Homo sapiens: one gene and its partners. The protein of the gene in region 3 interacts with the protein of the main gene of each other region in a pairwise test. Each region holds a gene or a part of one and is shown on either strand. Other genes may lie near its edges.

Region 1 (7,024 bases), on a different chromosome or scaffold from region 3:
CTGAATGGATGACCTAGCTATATCTCTGGGATATAAGTGGGTTGGCCTCTGAGTTGCTGGGGGAGAAAAAGGGCAATGTCGAGGGGAGAAGGGAGGCAAATGTATTTATATGGTATGGTGGGTAAGGATACAGCTCTAGAGTCAGAATCCAAGATCGTCACTTATTAACTTCACAACCAATGACTGTTTCCTCTCCTGTAAATCGGGATAGCAGTAGCCACCTCTTAGGCCTGCTGTGAGGAAGAACTCAGTTGATGTAAACAAGCACTGGGAACAGCGCTTGACTCATAGGCAGCCCTCAATGAATGTGGGCAATTACTAGCACTGTGTGATTTGTACATGTATGCACAATTATGTGTGGGGTTACGGGGAGGGGAATTGAAGGATGATGTATTCACTAAGCTGTTTGCCTTGACATGACTTTTCCTTTTGTCTCGGAGTTAGGGTGGGGAGGGGCATGACAATCATTGTGTGCTGCTGAGGGTGATGGCAGTCTGTCCCACAGCCCTCTGTCCATGAGTTCCTGTGCTTCTATGTGGGCCTTAGAATATACTTTTTAAAGGGATTGAGGGAAAAGTGGACTGGCCCCGTTACTGCAAACAGAAACCTATGTGGCACCAAAATGAAGATTTCTATCAATCATTTACCCCATGGGAAACAAGAAAGCTTCCTCAGAAAGGCTGACCTTTTTTTTTTTTTTTTTGAGACGGAGTCTCGCTCTGTTGCCCAGGCTGGAGTGCAGTGGCACAATCTCGGCTCACTGAAAGCTCCGCCTCCCGGGTTCACACCATTCTCCTGCCTCAGCCTCTCGAGTAGCTGGGACTACAGGTGCCAGCCAACATGCCCAGCTAATTTTTTGTATTTTTAGTAGAGACGGGGTTTCACCATGTTAGCCAGGATGGCCTGGATCTCCTGACCTCGTGATCCGCCTGCCTCGGCCTCCCAAAGTGCTGGGATTACAGGCGTGAGCCACCTCGCCCGGCAGAAAAGGCTGACTTTTCCCAATAAGCAGAGCAAAGCAAGATGGGAAATGTACCTTGCTAGACATGAAACCCCACCTCAAAGTCTTGGCCTAGAAGGAACCCTAATAAATCTGGCTGGCTTGAGCCAAGAAAACATTGAAGGAAGCCAGTGGCATCCAGAGTGGAATGACTTACCACATCCTATGTCTGGACTGAGCTGAGAGCTTTCCAACAAGACACTGGTTTCCCAGAATTTTTTTCCTTAACACAGTTTCCATTCCAAGAGCAAGCTAACTGGCTGCCTTTGCTCCCAACTTCTCTAGCAGCAACAGCCAGACCAGCCCTGATGTTTCCATTCCCTCAGTCGGAATATCATATCACTCAGGCTGTGGGGAAACCGTCAGGGACAGAATCTCACTGTCTTCTCTGGGGCTCTGCACGCTTACCTTGAACAGCCTTGGGAACACGTCGGCTGGCTGTCCCCGGACTACAAACAGGCGGGAGTTCAGTTTCCTTAAACTTGTGTCCAAATCTTCCAGAGACTGAAGTAGGAACCTGTGGAGTCCACACAGGCCTTGTTAGTGATAACATCATGAAGAGTGGCTCTCTTTCCTAACAAAGCAGGGAGAAACTGGTTCGCTGTTTATGCCCAACAGGCAGCCTCATGATCACTAGGGCTGGAGAGGCCTGGGTTCCAGCCCAGGAGGGATGTGGTAGTGGATCAGCGCTGCTCTGCTTCAAACCCTGGTCTTGCCACTTACTAGCTGTGTGACTTTAGGCAATAACCTAACCTCTTTGCCTGTTTTCTCGCCGGTAATGTGAAGCTGATGTTAGTACCCATCTCATAAAATTGCTAAGAAAAGAAAATCGAATAATGTGTGAAAAACATTTAGCACTGTGCCTGGCACACAGACATCATGAGATAAATGTGAGCTGTTCCTAGTGTGGTGTTTCTGTGTGATCAGAGGCTAGTCACTTACTCCCTCGCAGTCTCTGGGGCTAGATATAAGTATCTGCCCAGCATGAGGTTGTTGTGAGACTCACGTGGGAGCCATCTGAAAAGCCAGTGCAATACTGTGGTATGAAGCATTAAGGTCCTCTTAGCAGAGGACCAGACTGCCACAGCCGGGAAAATCCTCCTTACTCTGGTGGAAAAGACTCCTTGACTTTCTGCATGCATGCTCTGGGCCATGCGTATTTCTGCTGCCACAGCCTCACAGCCTGCAATGGGTCCCTAGTTCCCAGAGCTTTGTTTGGCAGGTGGCTCACTCTCCAGGCCTCTCCAGGGCTCTGGTGATCAGGTTCTCATCCCAAGAGGGAGAAGGCCTTAAAAGGTACTTCTCAATAGCTATCTTCACATTTTTGTGGGGGTGGGGGTGGGGAAGACCGCAGCTAGGCAAGAACTTCAGCAGGAGACCTGGATCACCAGGGGAAAGGGAAAGGACATTAACATTTGCTGAGTGCCTTCAGCGTTTTATTTTTAAATTAAATTAACATTATAACCAGATAAACTATTCATGTGGCTCAAAATTCCAGTGACAAAGTGGTACATAGTAGAAAGGGTTTTCCCCTCCCTCACTCCCCAGAGGCAACCAAGGTTATCAATGGGATTTTGGTTCTGTCATGCTTTTTAAGTGCATTTCTGCATTTAATTCTCTCAACTATTTTGAAGGAAATAGTACCATCCTTATTTTATAGATGAGGAAACTGAGACACTCAGAGGTGAATTAATTTGTCTAAGACCATAGCTGTTAAGTGACAAAGCTGGGGATTCAGGAACCTAGGGTGGTCACTCTGAAACCCACATTTTCCTCTCTGTGCCCTTTTTTATTTATTTATTTACTTTTTGAGACAGAGTCTCGCTCTGTCGCCCAGGCTGGAGTGCAGTGGCGTAATCTCGGCTCACTGCAACCTCCCCAACCCAGGTTCAAGCGATTCTCCTGCCTCAGCTTTCCGAGTAGCTGGGGTTATAGGTATGTGCACCACACCCAATTAATTTTTTAAACAATATTTTTAGTAGAGATGGGGTTTCACCATGTTGGCCAGGTTGGTCTTGAACTCCTGACCTCAAGTGATCCGCCCTCCTCAGCCATCCAAAGTGCTGGGATTACAGGCGTGAGCCACCGTGAGGGTTCTGTGCCCCATTTCTAAAGATTTCTAGTTGCACACCAACTCTGTTCCAGGGGCTGAGATTCTGCAGGCCCTCAGGAGTTTGGAATCCTGTTCTCTAATAGCAATGTGACTACAGGTAATCCACTGGCATTCTTATCTTCTTCTTCAAGAACCCACAGGTCAATCTGCATATGTCACAGATACCTCTGAGGCACCTGCTATCTACCCCTTGGGTCTCCACCCATCCCCAGCATTTTTCTCTGTCAACAATAGAAATGGCACATCACAGTCACATTCCCTGACTACTGGAGGCTTACAGAAGCAGTGACTATTCCCAGGCTGCCAACTAGAACCAGCCCCCACTGCTGCCTCTGACGTACACAACTTGACACACTCCTACGGCCAATGCCACCGACCCACATTCTAGCATGGGCTGAGCCCTGGCCTCGGCTCAAAGCATCATGTTTGCAAAAGAGCATGAGGAAGACTCTCTGAGAGGTTGGGATGGAAGACAAACAGGTTGAATGCTGCTTTATGCAAACCAAAAGCTCCACCTCTGTGAATTTCTGTTTTTGAAAAATTGTCACCTCCAGAAAAGGAACAGGGAGCTGCAAGTGCGTCACTTGTGTTGGCCTCCCCCAAGCCTCACCACTCTTCTGGAAGGAAAAGAAGAGAAATCCATGCAAATGGTCTCATGCCATCTGAAACCTGGACCCTGCCAGGTAGAATGCCTAGGGCTAGGAGCAGTGATTTAAATTTCATAACCCCAGGACACAGGGTCCTCCATCTGCAGCTCCCAGGAGTGTCCTTGCCATGCGCTTTGGGGGTCTTTTCCTTCACAGTCCACCAGGCTGCATAGGACTTTGATTTGAAGCTATAAATAAGGTTGGAATGCACATGAAATCTAGGTTCCAGAACATGTAGCAATCTGCCTTCTATAGAACTTTATTTTTAGACCTCATTTACTAAAAGGAGAGATTCCTCGTAGCATCTCTAAAGTACAGCTAATCCTATGAGAGCCCTTTTCTTCTTTCACAAAAGATGTTTATAGCAGGAAGCAGAGATGTGAGGCTGGTAGAAGGCCCAACTCTGAACCCAGCAACTAAATAAAAATAATGATAATAATGGCAATGATTAACATTTAATAAGCATTTACAATGACAGGCACTATTCTACTTGTTTCACATACATTACCTCATTTAATTCTCAAACAGCCCAATCAAGTAGGTAATATTATTATTCCCATTTTATAGATGAGGGAACTGAGGCATAGAGAGATTATGAAACTTGCCCAACATCATATACCTAGTAAGTGGCCAGAATTCAAACCTAGGCAATCTGTCAGGCTTGACATGTTCGTTTTTAGCCAGCCACTGCCTCTCAACAAACAGAGCACTGAGGCTGTGCTGCCCTGGGCTCAGCCATTAGGGAGCACCACAGGCCAACTCAAAGGCCAGCAACACCTCTGCTGCCAGATCTTTCCTCCTCTGAGTGTGGTCTGACAATCAGCAGCATTGGCTGTGAAACACCCAGGAGTCTGTTGAAATGCAGAATCTCAGGCTCTAACCCAGACCTCCAAAATTAGAATCTGTATTTTAGCAAGATCCCCTGGTGATTCATTTGCATATTAAAGTTTCACAAGCACTACTCTAGAAAACTGAACTTTACTTCTAGTCTCTGTTACAAGTTGCCTTTCTTTGCTTCTAGTTTGTTTGTACTAAACTTTCTCTCTTGAGCATCCATATTTCTGCCTCCCCTTTGGCCTGCTAGAAATGCTCTGCTTCTTCCAACTTCCCTCCCGAGTCAACCCGGGAAGGGAGGGCTCAGGACAGCCACCACACGGAGGCAATAGACAGGGATGTGAGGAGGGTCCCCAGTATCTCCAGACTCCAGGCAGCCAGAGAATGCAGAGAATGAGAAGCCACCACTAGGGTACTACCTTTGAGGCCTGCCAGGTGACAGCTGTCCCTCACATTTGGAGCAGTGCTGCGACTGGGCAAAGGCTCAGTGGGCAGGTATATGCATTCTTTCACCAGAGAGAACCTTGGGCCTTCTGTGGTCCCTTAGAACCCTCCTCTTTACTCCAATTTCTCTTTACTCCAATGAGGGGACTCTGAAGGAAACTGGCCTGGGCATTGGAGATGGTGGTGTTGGGGGCTGGCACTTCACCCTTGGCAGCTCTTAGCTGAGCTCACATGGCCAAAATTCAGAGCACATGGTCCTGGGAGAGCAAAGCTTACCCTTTGGATTAGACAACATGTGCAACTGAATTACATTATTATGTAAGTGCTCTGGAGCCAGAGGCAGGCAGAACTGGAGAAAACCAGACTGGGATTTCCAAAAATATAGAGAGGACACTATAACTCAGGGACTCTACAAGGCTAGCCTTTTAGAATAAAACAAGCAGATCCTTTGATTAAGTACTCATATTTAGGGAAGGCCTTCTCTAGGAATGGCTGATCCTGTGTTGAGGAATATTTTATTTATTTGTTGTTAATGGGGGGAGGGAGGATAACAGTGAATTCTTTTGGGTCCAGGCTGTCCTTGACCAAGTTCCTCTGCTTCAAGGCAAGGTTATCTAACAACGATGATGATACCACTGGCTGGCACAGATTGGCTACATAGGATATTAATAGAAATTAATTTTTCCTAAGTAATTAAGAGAGCTTAAGCCCCATGGAAAAGGATAACCTAAACTCACAATCTCTGGCAGGGATTTATTTCTAAGTATCTGAGTGATATTTAGAAATACTTAAATATTAAATTCTTATTATTTTAAAAATATATTTATTCTTTCCTAATTTCAAAGAGAAAGATGAAGGTTTTTATCCCCTTTGGGCAAACAGAAACATTTCCTTGGCAGCAGAACAGTAAAGTGCCTCTCTCAGGTACCAATGTGAATAGCTCAGAGAAGCTCCTGTTTCCCTGCCAGTAGACTAGCGTTCTCAATCCACTTCCCAACAGTCCAACAGTGTTCAGCTCTCAGCATCTGGGAAGAGAGACACACTTGTTCTCATGGGGCATCCTGGGAAGTTCCCAGTTTACCTCATTTACCAATTCTAAGAGAAATGGGCTGAGAGGGAACATATTTTATTTCTACAAATTCCCTCTGTCCCAGAAGCTCCTGAAAGAGGCGCAGCACAGAGCCAGGGACAAAATGATTTAAATAAAGTGGAAGAGGAACTGTTGCTAACACCTATCCAAGTTGCAGTGGGGAGAGAAAGGTAATGAAAAACCACAGAGGTCATTTTAAAATCTAGGAACTGCTCACATCTTCCTTTAGTTTATCTTCTTGCTGCAGTACCTCCTTCTAGATGTAGCAAATCTGGGGAAGGTGAGGCTGGGGAAAATGTGAAAGGGCTTAGCCAAGTAGCACTTGGAAAAAAAAAAAAAAAGTCCTGAGGCTCATATAGCTACAATTAGCCCGTAAACTTCCCACCATCACCAGGGCAAGAAGTATGCTAGGCTTCTTCTTGCTAATCAATATGTGTATTTCTTGGTTGCATTTCTCTGTCCGTTTTTACTCTTAGTGCCATTCATAGTTATTTTAATCTGATTTCCTCTGCAGAAAAACATTGTGTGGGAGTCAGTGTAGAAGGAGCAGGAGGGAAACAGAGTCACAGATTTTGGGTCCTCCCCTCCTTGCAGATGGTCCCTTGCCCTTCCCAGGGAGGCTTCTCAGAGACAACTTAAGCAGTTGCAGAGCTAGGACATTATGCTGCAGCACAATTCTCTTAGACCACTCTTGGAATCCAGAAACAACCACGGGACGATTACACATACTACAGTCATGTCAAGATATGGCTGGCTCCAGCCCTCCCCTCTATCCCCAACTTTGTGCACAAAAGAGAATGCAGCTCTGCCTTCAACTGATCCAGGAAGCAAGCAGAATGGTGGAGGTGGTAGGAGTGTGTCTGTTTCCAGGCCCAGGAGCAGTTATTATATTCAAT
Region 2 (6,934 bases), on a different chromosome or scaffold from region 3:
AAGAGCACCCAAAATCAGCCTAGACTCACTTTTGCAAGATTTGACTTTAGGACTGAACTCATCTCTGTCTCCAGTTAGGTGTAGTAAGTCTCCAAGTCTCCAAAAGATCCAGCTAAATCAACATTTACACTCTTATGTAACATCTGTTCTGAGAGTGAAGTTCGTGGAATTGAATAACCTTATAAATGAACTGAAACACAGGCCTCGGGATTTTTAAACATGTGTGTACAGACATATCCAAAAAATTCAGCATATGGGCAACGAGAATTTGTCCATTGCAATTATAATTGCAATTCATAATATGCCCAGTCTCCATCTGCAGGTTGCAAATGCTTATTACACCATTATGTGGCCAGTGTGGGCCTCAACTGTGGAAAAAGTTTTTGGAGGAATATATTTGGAATTCAGTATCTTTTTAAAAGTTGGTAGAATGAATTTATCAGAGTGGTGAAACCATAAACACTTTTTGGGTTTCATGGCCCCAGAATGTATATGTACCATATACACAATGTCTTATTCAAATGTAGGTATTCAAAAAATGTTTATTGAATGAACATATATAAATGAATGAATGAGTGCGTTTTGTAAAGGAATCTGGGAGTCAAAATCTGGCCAGAAGAACCCAAGTCCTGCTCCAGTGACCAGATCAACCAGTCCAATTTTCCCACTGTGCTCAATGTTCCTCTTTGGTTTGTAACAAGAACCACTGTCCTCTTTGACATAGTGCAGAAACAAATGAGAAGCAGATGAGCAGGAAAGCCCTAGAGCCTAGCATTCATGTTCAACCTGATTTTCTGGCTTCCAGTATTTTGGCTCATTAAACAGGAAAACAAAATTAACTGTTTATAATTTTCAAAACACTTTGCATTTTCACTCATTCCAGATACAAACAACTTTAAAGACAAAATCACAAGGAGGGTATGTGAACAAGGCCTAGTTACCAAAAGAGGTCACATGAAAATTAAAAAGCATTCAAGAGTAAATAGCAGTCCATATTGTCCAGGGGGATGAGCTATGCAACCTAAGTAAAAATTAAAACCAAATTACAGACACTAATTAGTGTTGTATAACATACCGATTCATTTGCATACAATGCAATTATCCTGATAGGTGCTGGATTCAACACATCCAGCTGGGTTAGTGCATCTCCACGGAACAAAAGCATTCGGTTTTTTTCCCTGTGTGTTGGCTGTGTTCTCTTATGACTGTGACGGCAAATAAACAATCATTCCCAGCACCTTTAGACTTTGAACATTTGAAATAAAATCAATACAGATTGTGCATGGGGAGCATTCAGCCCCCCTCAGATGAACAACTAACAGGCTGATTCTGGGTCAGTACTCCATTTCTAGAACATTTTATCTGATCTTGTGTTTTAGAAAACCACATTTATTTTATGCTATATAAAGAATTCTTCTTCATCTTCTTCTTTTTCTTCACCCTGAACTTGCAGATGAAGGAGACATTCTGAAATTGTCTTCCTGGTACCAAGGTCCCTTTGGCCAGCAAGTGGCAAAGGAGAGACTCTTTCCTTAAGGACACTGTTGTTTTTGGAGGTAGCCACCCCCAAGGAAGAGGCTGGCAAGCAGAATGGTGGCTGGCTGGTCTGTAAATCCCTTGGAAATCCGCCAAAATAAGTCTGCCTGGGTTCAGAATTTATGATGGTCAAGCCGGTGTCAACATTCGTCTCGGCCTCAAGCTTCTGAAAGCTGTTTTCCCGGTTGAGGACCTTCATTCTGGCCCCGGATTCAAGGTGATGAGAAGACAGGTGCAGGTGGGCACCCATAGCTGGGCTGCTGACCTGGAATGACCGGCCAGGGCTTTTCCACGAAGTGCCAGCACACCTGTCTGATGTGGGGCTCCCACTGGGCTCAGGAAGCTCCAGAGAATGCCCCTGGGACCTCTTGCCCTGGTTCCTCTGGCTCCTGGGTTCTGAGGTCCTCTTTGCAGAGACAGAAGTCAGCCTGGAGCCCAGGGGAAGCATGCCAGCTCCCAAGATGCCATTCTTAACACCAAGTTCTGGATTCAGCTGAACCTACAGGAAAGGAAAGGAGGAACATATGAAACATAATTTCCATTAACTAAGTGCCAAGAGCTGACTATGCCTTATTCACCCTCTGCCATGCCATGCCCATAGCAGACTTTCAGTAAATTTGGTTGAATTGAATAGAAGTGATAAGTACAATATAATTATGAGATATCTAATCAGACCCAGCCCCAAATACCTCTCTTTGGGACTCCCTAAATTAAGTTTTTGACAAGGGTAAGACTTTGGGAATCAAATGGCCAATTGACAACACCACACTTCTGGTAGAGCAAGTTGTTCAAACAATGCAGACATTCACAGATGTCATTCAGTGACCTCACTGGATGTTGTAAATGATATATTTATTAGCAACCATGTAAAAAAAGAAATTTAGAAAGCCACCAAACCATGTGGTTAAAGTTAAGATAAGGATTGAAGTAAGAATTCAATCTTCCAAAGCTGGTGATCCTTCTTTTAGATCATGCTAATAAAAATACATATCTTGGGCCATTCTAAGACATGTGACCACTCCAGACGGCTAATAATTTGGCAGCAATATTCTTTAAATTCTTGGGGCACCATTTATTTAGATTAGAGGCCTGGTATTGCATGAGAAAACAAAAAGGGGGCATGGCTTATATGGAAGTTTAGGTGTTTTCATCCTTAGCAATTCCACTCTGGTTACAAACTTACAGACACCACTCAGCAAAACCCTCACCCTGCAGTTGACTGCACTCTCCCTCCACAGGATGGAGTTCACTGACCCCCCTTTAAGACTTCCACCCTTGGGAGCCTTGCATCCTATTCCATGCACAACACTCTTCCCAAGAAGATTTCTGGAAAAAGGCAATTTTTTCCATTTTGATAACAGCCCTTGGAAATTTGTATCCAGGATCCATCCCTACCTGGCCCAGCCCTTAATCAAATATCAAGAAGAATGATACGGAAGAACTTGCAATAAATACTACTAACTGAAAGAAGCCTATCTGGGCTCATGCCTGTAATCCTAGCCCTTTGGGAAGCTGAGGTGGGAGGACTACTTGAGGCCAGGAGTTCAAGACCAGCTTGGGCAACTAGCAAGACCCCATCTTTACAAAAAATAAAAACATCAGCCAGACGTGTGGTCCATACATATAGTCCCAGCTATTCAGAAGGCAGAAGAGGGAGGATCCCTCGAGCCCAGGAGTTCGAGGTTAAATTGAGTTATGACTGCACCACTGCACTCCAGCCTGGGTGACAGAGAGAGACTATATGATGCCAACTATATGACACTTTGGAAAAACCAAAACTATGAAGACAGTAAAAAAATCAGTGGTTGCCAGGGGTTGGGGGGAGGGAGGGATGACTAAGTGGAGCAGGAGGACTTTAGGGCAGTGAAAACTACTCTGCATGATACTGTAATGGTGGATGCACATCCTTATACATTTGTCCAAACCCACAGAATGTACGACACCAAGAATGAACCCTAATGTACCCTATGGGCTTTGGGTGATGGTGATGTGTCGTTGTAGGTTGATCAGTTGTAACACATGTACCACTCTGATAAAGGATGTTGACAGGAAAGGAGGCTCTTTTCGGGGGGAAGGTTGTATATGGGAACTCTCTGTTCTTTCTGCTTAATTCTGCTGTGAACCTACCACTGCTGTAAAAAATAAGGTCTATTTCAAGGGAGAAAAAATAATGATACATATTTATCTTACAAGGCAAGAAGGCAGAAATGAGGACAGTGAGAAAACAGGTCTAGAAATCAGTAAATTCTCTCTCTCATACACACACACACACACTCACACAGAGCATATTTGTTTGTATAGATGACGCAGAGTACATCTCAATTTTCTGATAGAAATGGTGAGGTGCATATTACCAAGCTGCAAAAACAAACACACAAAAAAACAAGGACTTCCACTGATTCTTTTAGAATAGAAGTTGGCAAATATTTTCGGCAAGGAGCCAGACAGTAAATATCTGAGGGTTTGCCGGCCATATGGTCTTTATCCCAACTATCCAACTCTGCTGCAGAGCAGCCATAGACAATATATAAATGAATGGCTGTGTTCAGTAAAACTCTATGTATGAACACTGAAATTTGAATCTCATATTTTTTATGTGTCATGAATTTTTTTCCAACCATATAAAAATAGAAAACTATTTTTAGTTCTCAGGCCACAGTTGACCAAGCCCTATTCTAGATCAATGATTCCCTGTCTTTTTTTTTTTTTTTTTTTTTGAGATGGAGTTTTGCTCTTGTTGCCCAATCTGGAGTGCAATGGCGCAATCTCAGCTCACTGCAACCTCCACCTGCCAGGTTCAAGTGATTCTCCTGCCTCAGCCTCCCTAGTAGCTAGGGTTACAGGCATGCACCACCACGCCCAGCTAATTTTGTATTTTTAGTAGAGATGAGGTTTCTCCATATTGGTCAGGCTGGTCTCAAACTCCCAACCTAAGGTGATCCATCCACCTTGGCCTCCCAAAATGCTGGATGACAGGAGTGAGCCATCTCTCTATCTTAAGAAGTTTTTTTCCAAACAATTTCTTACCTGGAAGCCCAAAATATGAAGCAATCTAATTAGCGCAGCCCTGGTTGACGTACAGAGGGTAGCCTCTGCCTACGGGACCCCCTCTCTAGTTCCCCAGGGCTTCACAGAACCAGCTTGAAAACCACTATTCTAGAATATCTAAATTCTACCCCTGAGCCAAGCCAGTTCATTAGAGCCACACACACCTGAAACCCCTATCGCAGATGTGCTTGCACTGAACCACAGCTGAGTGCAGTGCCCCAGAGTGTGTTGAAGAGAGCTTCCACCAGCATCAGATACTCTCTCTAGGGGCGACACTGTTGAAGGGATGCCCACTGCACCGAAGGACCTGTCCTTATGCAAACCCATAGGAGAAATTTCTGTTCCCAAACTTTGCTGCACAAGGGAACATCCTGGGATCATTAAAAAACAATGATGCCTGCTCCCAGCCCATGACCTCCTGATTTCATCAGGTCAGAGTACACCTGGCTGTCAGAGCTGATAAATCTCCCCCAGTAATTCTAATGTGCAGCGAAGTTTCGGAACTACTGCCATGGACCCAGAAAAGCTAGGCTTCGAGTAGTCAGTTAACTTGCGGTCGTTGTGAGTCTGTTTCTTATCACATACACCCGACCTCCTCCTCCATATTTCTGAAAAATTCTTTGCCTAATTTCATTTTGCTATCTCTCTCTACATTTCCCTTTGCTCTAATTCCACAGCTCCGCCCTCCCTCCCCTCCTTTCTTCCTTCTCTCCTTCCTTCCTCCTGCCCTTCCTTTCCTTTCTTTCCTTTTCATCTGTTTGTTTTTTTAAAAAAGTCTTACTATAAAAGTAGTAATTTATCACCATAAAAATAATTTCATTGTACAAATGTATAAAATAAAAAGTAAAGCCTTCTCCCTATCCCAACCTCAAATCACCCCCAAATTCTCACTTTCCAATGAAGACTATTTGCTTATCCTTTCAAAATCAGGAGGAAAAAATACTATCTCCGAAATGTCAGCTGGGGTTTCCCTTCCCCTGGAGAACAAACTCCCTTAGTCCTTCAAAGGGCCAACTGCCATCATTGCCTCTTGGAGAATCATTTGACACTGTACCCTTGTATCATAATGTACCTTTTTAATTGACCCAATGACATCTTTTTCTTCTAGAAATGGAAACTGGCATGGATATTTCCATACTGAGAAATGGTTCAGGGTTGATATTAGATTATCCAATCTGGAGAAAGAAATCAATAACTTTGACTCTGGGGCTTGTATTTCATTCTCTAGCAACTGTGAACACAGAGAGAAGCCTGAGTAATCGCCCCTTGCCATCTAAATCAATGTCAGATCATAATGAAATTGGTCCTGAAGCCCCAACCAGTGCCGAGACATCTCAGGGCAGCCAGGAAGCGCCCTCCTGGGCCAGCCCAGCTCACCCCTCCACTCCCCTCTGTCACCCAGTCCCACAGCCCCTCCACTGGGCCTTCTCCACCTGCAAATGTCCCATCTTTGAAAGATTCTATTTAAGCCAGGCATTCTGAGGCCATGGGCTCCGGCACTCAATTCCCCATCACATCTGCTCTTCAACATCAACACTCCCAATCCCCAGCTTCTCCCTGTCAGCCCCTCCCATCCACACTGCCTTTCAGAGTCAATTTGAGTCCAAAGACTATCACTTCAACCATTTCTTCACCAATACCTCCAACTCCCCTCACTATTCCCATTCTGTCACAGACTCCCACAAAATCTCCCCACCTTTCATCCATCTACCTGCCCACATTTTCTGAACATGTGTTCAGGATGCCACAGAAACACATCGGTCTGTGAAATGGGTGCCCCATGATGGCGTGGTTTCCGGCCTCTCCCAGGCTACCCGCCAGTCTGCCTGCTTCCTTAGTCACCTCTCTCCATTCACCCAGCAGCTGTTCAAACCTTCAAAACTGTCCTGAAATCTTCAGCAGCACCATCGCCCCCACTCTCTCTCATCAGGTGGTCTCACCATCCAGATTATCAAGGAAGCAGATGCTGTCACCAGTTAGCAACACTCTCACTGCTACCGCGAAACTTACCTGCAGCTTCACCATTCTCTCTAGGTGAAAGTGACCGGTCCCTGGGCCAAGACTCCCATCACCTCCCGCCTTCTTGGTGACCCTGACCTATCAATTATTCATTTTTCCCACTTTCTTATCTTGGATGTTTAATCTCTCTCCCTCTCCTTCTCTTTCTCTCTCTCTGCCTATTCCTTTCCAACAGCAATTAAACTTGTTCAAGTCTCGTGTCTTGAAAAACACATTCTTTCCACCCTCTCTTTCCCTCCAGGTTTCTCTGTCCTCCCCTTCACTGTCAAACCTGTATATAAAATTTGTGTAGTTATGTTTTTCTACAAACCTCCCCTTATTTTCTCTACCC
Region 3 (7,943 bases):
CATGCACACTGGCAGTATACAAACTGAGAAAGACTTTCTGGAAAGTGCTACAGCCATGTGACCACAGGGCTTCACCCTGTGACCTCATTAAACCTAAGCAGATTACAGGTCTGAAGGGGGCTTTCTTTAGATGTGGCTCCACCTACTTAGGGGCAGATGAAGAAAACAGGGGTCTGGGCAGTTCTGAATGGGAAGGCCAGGCATCACCTCCCTCTTCAGTTGCACAAAGTGTGCGTGGCATCCTCACATCCCATCTGCCTCAATTTCGCTTTTTCTCTGAACACTTTTCACCATCTGTCTGAAGCACACACACACATTTTATTCACTTCCCCATTCCCATGCATGAATGCTAGGACCTTTGCAATTGTGGGCCAGGAAAGATTGCAAATGATAAGCCACCAGCACAGAGAGTAGAAATGAAATCCTGGGGTTACAAGCTAAAGCATTACTGACACCCACTTGTCCAGAACGGCTGAAGCTGGGCGGTGACTGTCAACAGGTATATACGGACTAGAAAGTGGAGCTGCTGGAGGAGGCCCTGTACCTTCCTGCCATGACACAGCCTCCCCCCAAGTGCTGGGCTTGTGTGCTCAACACTCCCTCTTGCTGTCATCCTACCACACCTGCAGACTGGAGGTAATCCAGATGCAAGGCCGTCGAGTCCCGCAAACACCCACCTGCCTCTTAATTTTCCAAGTGAGACCTACATTTCCTCAAGCGTGAAGCTCAATAAAATCAACTATTGTTTTCCGTTTTCATCACGAGCGCCACTTTCCCCCTATTTGTTCACCGCCTCCACTCCACAAGAACTGCTCTTGACTTGGCCAACTTTCTGGGACACCCTCACTACAAGGATTTATGAGTCAAACAGGTTTTTGTGCTAGCCTGGAAATCTAACTGCTGACAGCAGTTGTTTCAAGAAGAAAATGCTGTTTTGGAACCAAACAGCAGGCTGCCAACTGAAACAACATAAACCCACCTCCAAGTTCAAATGAAACAAACAAACAAAAAGACTGGTCCAAGTGAGGCAAGCTGTGGTGGCTCACACCTGTAATCCCAGCACTTTGGGAGGCCAAGGTGGGCTGATCACGAGGTCAGGAGTTCGAGACAAGCCTGGCCAACACAGTGAAACCCGTCTCTACTAAAAATACAAAAATTAGCTGAGCGTGGTGGTGGGCGCCTGTAATCCCAGCTACTCAGGAGGCTGAGGCAGGAAAATCACTTGAACCCGGGAGGTGGAGGTTGCAGTGAGCCGAGATTGTGCCACTGCACTCCAGCCTGGGCAACAGAGCTAGACTCTGTCTTAAAAAAAAAAAAAAAAAAAAAAGACTGGTCAAAGTGGCTTACGTCTGTAAGATCAGCACTTTGGGAAGTGGAGGCAGGAGGATCTCTTGAGGCCAGGAGGTTGAGACTAGCCTGGACAACACAGTGAGACTCTATCTCTACAAAAAATTTTATAAATCAGCTAGGTGTGGTGGTGCAGGCCTGTAATCCCAGCTACTCAGGAGGCTGAGGTGGGAGGATCAATTGAGCCCAGGAATTTGAGGTTACAGTGAGCTATAATCATGCCACCATAAACACGCCTGGAGGACAGAGTGAGGCCCTGTTTCTAACATACACACACATATACACACAGAAACATCTCGAGAGGACACCTCCAAATGATGAAGCTATTTTGTTGGGTACTGCGGTGGCACCTGTGATTCCTCAAGTAGCTTGGAATCAGCGTGCTAACACCATAAAGTGGCTGCAAAAGTCCCAGTGAAGTCACTGCTGAGAGCAAACAGGCCTTACAGAGAAGTTCCAAGGGGACAGGAAATTTCCAGAGGCTTGAGAGGACAATGTTCAGGGGAATAAGTACTTGAAGGGAATTATCTAACAAGGTGTTAAAGTAACTAGCTTCTTAGACAAGATGACATCAGGAGGAAAAAAAAACTTATTAAGGCAAACATGTCAGTTTCAGGCCAACTAAGGCTGTCAGAGAGACATGGAACACAAGAAGAGAAGAGTTTTGAAATGTATTCCCATCAAGAGCCAAGAATAATGAACTTTTGAATGTAAAACTTAGTGTGTTCCAAAACAAGAAAGGAAAAATAACTTGTTACTCGGAATCGAAGCCAAAAGGAATCTCATTGCTTGGGGAGGAGGGATGGGAGGGTGGGGGTGGTCCTTGGCCTGGGAAGGAAAACTCCACCAGGCCTTCGGAGCTGGGCACGCCCTGTTCCCACAATTAAGAAAAAAAACGACGACCTAGAGCTCAAGGCCGGTGCTGACATCTGACCTACTGGATGGCAGCCGCCTGTAGGAACATCACCATAGACTATTGGAATTTTCTGGCAAGTACTGGGCACTAAATCAGAGATGTGTTTTTAGAGAATTCCATGCCAATACTGCTGTATAGAATCTTTTATTCATACTTTCCCACTAGGTTTGGGCCCCTCTAAGCTTTCACGAGTCAAAGACCCCTCCTGCTTGCTGAAACCACCCACGGAAGGCCGGACACCGAGGACCTGGCCGCCCAAGCAGAGGCGACTGACAAGCGCGGTCCGGGCTGGACGGCCCCACCTTCCCCGCCCGGGAGAGCCAGGCCGGACAGCGGCCTCCCTCAGACCCGTCCCCAAGGCCGAGCCTCGCCCTGGGCCGTGCTGGTGCCCCATTCGGGACGGAGCGGTGGCCCGTCAGCACTTCCACGGCCTCCTCAGCAGGCCAGATGGGCAGGGCCGGCCTGGTGTCTCCCCGCCTGGCCGCGCGCTCGCGGGCAGCGATGACCCCAGGCAGCGGGCGACCCCAGGCGGACGGCAGGCCGGGTCTGCTCACTCACCGTTCGCTGCCGCGGGCGCCTGCGGGGGCGTCTACATGCCGGACCGAGCCCGCAGGCCCCGCCGCCGCGCCGCCGCCAGCCGTCGCTACCTGGCCCTTGGCGCCCTGGCCGCCTGTTGCCCCATGGCCGCCCGGACCCCGGCGCCGGCGCCGCCGAGCAGCAATGCGCCGCGCCCGCCCACTGCGCAGGCGCACCCGCCACGCATGCGCGCTGCCGCGCACGTGGGGCGTCCCGCGCGTCTGCCGGGTCCCACCGGCGCCGGGACACCCCGCGCGGGCGGGAGGCGGCGGGCGTGGCGGGAAAGAGGCGGGCGGTGGGGAAGAGGGGCGAATCGCGGTGGAGAGCAGTGACCAGGGAGTGGAGGCGGGCAGCGGGGACAGGGGCGGGCGTCCGCGACTCGGGTAGGCGGGGGTCGGCGCCCCGAGGAGGGCGGCCCCCGGCTCCCGTCCCCACTCACCTGCCGCGTCCGGAGGGCGCCCCCGGGTCCGCCCGCCACGTCTACGCCTAGGCGCCCCCGACATTGTGATCCCAGCCCGGCGTCCCGCCCCCAACTCACCGCCACCGCGGGCGGGACCTCCCGGACCACGTGGGCCGGCTCAGGGGAGTGCAGGTGCCCCGCGAGAGCTGGCCCCGCCCGCCGCCGCTTCCCTAATTACCGGGCTGTGACACGGTGTGGGCCGAGCCGGATTTGGGAACCGAAACTTAGAGCAGCTGCGGCAGCGCTGCGCTCCCTCGGGGCTGTCCGTCGGGGCTGGGAGGGCGGCCCTGCGCCTGGGGGAACCGCGATCGGCCTCACGCCCACCTCTAGCGGCCAGGTGCGCCTTGCACGCCCACGAACGTCCTCAGAGGTCTACGCTTGGGATCCCAAGGCTGGCAGTGGAGGGAGGACCCGGTGGCCTGGGGCACCTCTAGGGGGACCAGGGAGCCGTGTTTTGCGCACCCCACAGGCTGGAGGACTCGGGGAGTTGGGGGAGGAGGCCAAAGCCACAGGAGCGGACTTTGTAGTGTTTGTTGGAACTGCGGGTCCCACCCAGCCCGCACTTGCTGAACTGGTGGCTGCTCATCAGCGCCTTCAGGCCTCAAATATCCCAATAATGTGCCCTATACCCAGTTCTCAGCTCTCGAGTCACTGTCAGGTAAACTGGCAATGCACGACCAGCTGCTCTAACCTGCTGGTCCCCCAGGTGCCAGACATTGTTTTGTTTTTCTGAGATAGTGTCTCATTCGTCCCCCAGGCCGGAGTCCAGTGGCGGGCTCACGGCTCACTGCAGCCTTGACCTCTCAGGTGCAAGCGATCCTTCCACTTCAGCTTCCCTAGTAGTTGGGACTACAAGTAGGTCCCGCCACACTCGACTACTTCATTCATATATATATATATTTGTGTGTGTGTGTGTGTGTGTGTGTAGAGATGAGGTTTTACCATTTTGCCCAGGCTGGGTCTCAAACTTCACCCGCCTCGGCCTCCCAAAGTACTAGGATTATAGGCGTAAGCCACTGCACCTGGCCCAGCCATTGTTTTCTGAGGTTCAGTCCCTGTCTATACTTTCTGTGTGATCACCTGGCCCAGGGTCGGTGTGGACCTGAGTCCTCTGCAGCCCTTCCCCACACCCGCATACCTGCTCTCTGGTCAGGACTCCTGGGACTTGAATCCAGAGACACGGAACACGGCCTGGCCAAGTCTTCCTGAAAAACACAGCTCTTCAGTTCAGGACCACAGTGAAGTACAGGGCACCAAGGGTGACTGGAAAGGGAAGCAAGGATCATGAGAACTTGGGGGATTTCTTAAGCTCTGTAACTTCTCCCGGGGTTATTTTGCAAACCCAACTGTTTCAAAGTGACCACCAGCCACACCCACAGAAGCGGCCTTGAGCTGCCCAGTTCTTTTTCTTTGGCGGGGGGAGAGGGGGCGGATAAGATCATTAACATAATAATGCGTGAGCTGAGTTTTTGCATATGATCATTAGCATAATAATGCTTGATCTAGATGGCGCACCCACAAGCCAGGCACTGAGCCAGGCCTCAGTAGAATCTTCTAGAGTGGAGGCAGTCAACTGCTTCTGCAGAGGCAACCAGTGACTGTCGTGGGCCCCAGGTCACACAGCAGGTGCCCTTCGCGTGTCCCGCTGTGTAGGGAGCTCCAGCAGCTGCCCCGTCTGTGGCATGAAAACCCTTTGTCTACCCTGGGCCTGGGCACTGCCTGCAGGAGAGCTTCCCTGTTTCAGAGATGAGAAAACAAAACCAGGGCTGTGGTTTCCTTCAGCTGACAGGTTGTGCAATTTCTCAGGGCAGGCCCCGGATATGACCTTGAAGATTCAGGGGCCAAGATCTCACACCCACACCTCACCCCAGGCCTGGCCAGCAATAACTAAGACCAAAGCTGGGAAGGCTCCTTAGGGCACCCAGAATGGTCCAAGAGGCAGCTTTGCTTGGGCTGAGACCAAAGGGAAGAGATGTTCCCGCAGCAGGAACAGAAGGGTCCAGGGCTATCATGGGGGCTTCTGCCAGATGGTGCACAGGAAGAGGCTCTGCCTTCAAGGGATTGGGGGTCAGGAAAGGCCCCCTCCTGCCTGACCAGGCCCCAGGGATGGGGCAGCAGTGGGTGGCATCCCCTGCCCTGACCTTCCTCAGCCCCAGGGCTGCCATTGCTCAAGGTGGCAGTGGACTCTTCACATAATTTCGCATTGTTTTTTGTATTCTTTAAGGATGGCTCCCATGTTGTTTACTTCAGAACCCCCAAAACCTGGACCCATCCTCTTCTGGGGGTCAGCAGGGATGGGGAGGGTGGAGGGAGAAGGGGGAACGGAGGCCATGAGGGATGGAGCAGGATGGGGTGCACTGGGGTACAGGTTGCTCCTGGGGAGGCTGAGGAGAGAGGGAAGTTGGCTTCAGGTGGCCTGGCTCCAGTAAACTGGGTGAACGAAGTCTGCCCAGAACCCACAAGGGTAAGTGGCCTGGAGCCTGGGGAAAGGATGACTGGGAAGGACTGAGGCTCCCAGTGAAGGACATCAGTATGGCAGGCTATCTGGTCATCTCATCCAGCCTCCAGCCAGCACCCGGCACAGGCCCTGCCCAGGCTGAAAGCCAGGATAGGGGCGTCTGCAGGGGCCAGTGTCTGGATCTGCTCACATGACAGTCTTCTGTTTGGCCTGGTTTGGGGCGAGGGGCAACCTCTTTCCCAGGATGCCAGCCATGTGCAGGGCATACTGAGGATTCAACAGTGGAAACCAAAGTCCATCAGGTGTTCACCTTCTAGTGGGGCAGACGGGCAAGAAGCAGAATTGGTGGGGGCAGGCAGGGGTTGGGGTACAGTTTTGACCAAGGTACCCAGGGACAAGTGTTTCTCTCTCAGGCAGAGGCAGCAGCAAGGACCAGGACCCTGAAGTGGTGAGAGCCTAGAGTGGGCGGGGATCATCAACAGTAACCACCTGGCAGGACTGGGACTCCCTGTGTCCTCACAAGATCCTTACCAAGCAGCCTAGTATAAGACGAAGTCTCGCTCTGTAGCTCAGGCTGGAGTGTAGTGGCATGATCTCAGCTCACTGCAAGCTCCGCCTCCCGGGTTCAAGCCATTCTCCTGCCTCAGCCTCCAGAGCTGGAGTTACAGGCGCACACCACTGAACCCGGCTCATTTTTTGTATTTTTAGCAGAGACGGGGTTTCATCATGTTGGCCAGGCTGGTCTTGAACTCCTGATCTCAGGTAATCCATCCACCTCGGCCTCCCAAAGTGCTGGGATTACAGGCGTGAGCCACAGCGCCCGGCCACAGCCTGGTACGTTTATTGTCCACATTTTTCACGCGGGGGCCAGAGGCACAGAGAGGCCAAGTAACTTGCTCAAGGTCACCCAGCGAGGAAAGGGAGCTGGGGGGTGGGGGTAGGGGACAGGGCGAGGCCAGAGAGTAGTGGGAGGGGCCGAGGCGGCCTTTCCCGGGAGCGCTCGGTTCCCGGCCGGCCCTTCTATTGGCCCCAGTCACTCAGGCTCCCAGGTCCGGCTCGGGGGGGAGCGGGGGGCCGCGCCAGGCCGCTGAAGTGTCCCCGTTTCGCGTGGGCAGAGCGCGCCTCCCCACGCATCCTGCTGAGGGCCAGCCTCTGCTAGGTGCGTGACACGGAGGGGACAGAACGGAAACCTTGTCCTGCTCAAGTGTGGACGTGCGTGCCACGTGCTAGAGTAAAATTGAGGTGGGGAACCTCCATCCCTGGGACATGGAGCACAGGGGCGACCCCGCGCCGCTTGGTCAAAGGAGGTCCGAGGCCCTGCAGGAACAGCCCACAGCCGGAGCGAGCTGCAGGTCACTCCACTGCCTGTGTCCACCTGCGACAGGTGCGCCCGCGCAAGCGGGGCGGAGCCAGGTGACCCGGACACAGGAAGCGCGCCAGGGGCCCCCACACCGCGGAGCTGCTGGCGACAAAGGGCGCTGCTCCTGCATAGGCCAGGCTAATGCAATCTACAAACTAGATTTCTGTGCCTACAGTTTGAAAATGATTGCAGTTCACTCAGCCAGTGTGGAATTATCCTCCTCTTTCCACACTGCCTTAGTCAGTGCCGCTGTCCAAGTGCACGTTGTTGGCGCCCGTTTTCATTTCCTGTTTTGCTAAGAAAGTGGGGCAGTGGCCTCCATGCCCGCCAAGGGACAGGCAGGCCGCCCCAGGGAGGGGTCCCCCTCAGCTCTGGCTCTTCCAGGCCAAAGCCAAGGGGAAGGGGCACCAGAGGGTCCCAGGTCCCACATGCCAGCTCCCTCAGTCTGCGGGGTGCCAGGCTAGGACACAGAAGCCAACAGGAATCCCCAAAGGGAGGAAGTGGAGTCGGGGGTGTGGCAGCCGTGCTGAGATGCTCGGCCTTTATTTACTCTGGGCAGGGACCAAGATAGGCCACTGCAGGCCGGCACCCTGCCTCCCGGCTGCTGGAGCCCCTCCCTCCCAGGAACTGCCAGCCAGGAAAGAGCCTCAGGTACTCTCTGCATTTAATTTTTAATTTTTTTTTTCTTTTGACGCCTCCAAGACAAGTTCAACTCTCTAGTGATTTTAAGTGGGGTTTTTGTAAGACAGCTGGCAGGGTTAGGGCTTGTGAAGAACTTGCATGTCTATGAAGAACTGATTTATTTCAGGGAAAAGTGGGGGATGAC

The links.
Region 1: the proteins of NADK (region 3) and CRY2 interact in binary tests that used the Homo sapiens proteins (3 or more experiments, as listed by UniProt).
Region 2: the proteins of NADK (region 3) and FAM124B interact in binary tests that used the Homo sapiens proteins (3 or more experiments, as listed by UniProt).

The regions. Positions count from the first base shown.
Region 1 is NC_000011.10:45,850,475-45,857,498, reverse strand, and holds part of CRY2 (cryptochrome-2), read right to left. Parts: intron 1,518-7,024; coding exon 1,409-1,517; intron 1-1,408. UniProt on the Homo sapiens protein: Transcriptional repressor which forms a core component of the circadian clock.
Region 2 is NC_000002.12:224,378,174-224,385,107, forward strand, and holds the end of FAM124B (protein FAM124B), read right to left. Parts: intron 2,036-6,934; coding exon 1,400-2,035; 3' UTR 525-1,399; downstream 1-524.
Region 3 is NC_000001.11:1,775,468-1,783,410, forward strand, and holds the start of NADK (NAD kinase), read right to left. Parts: upstream 3,004-7,943; 5' UTR 2,822-3,003; intron 1-2,821.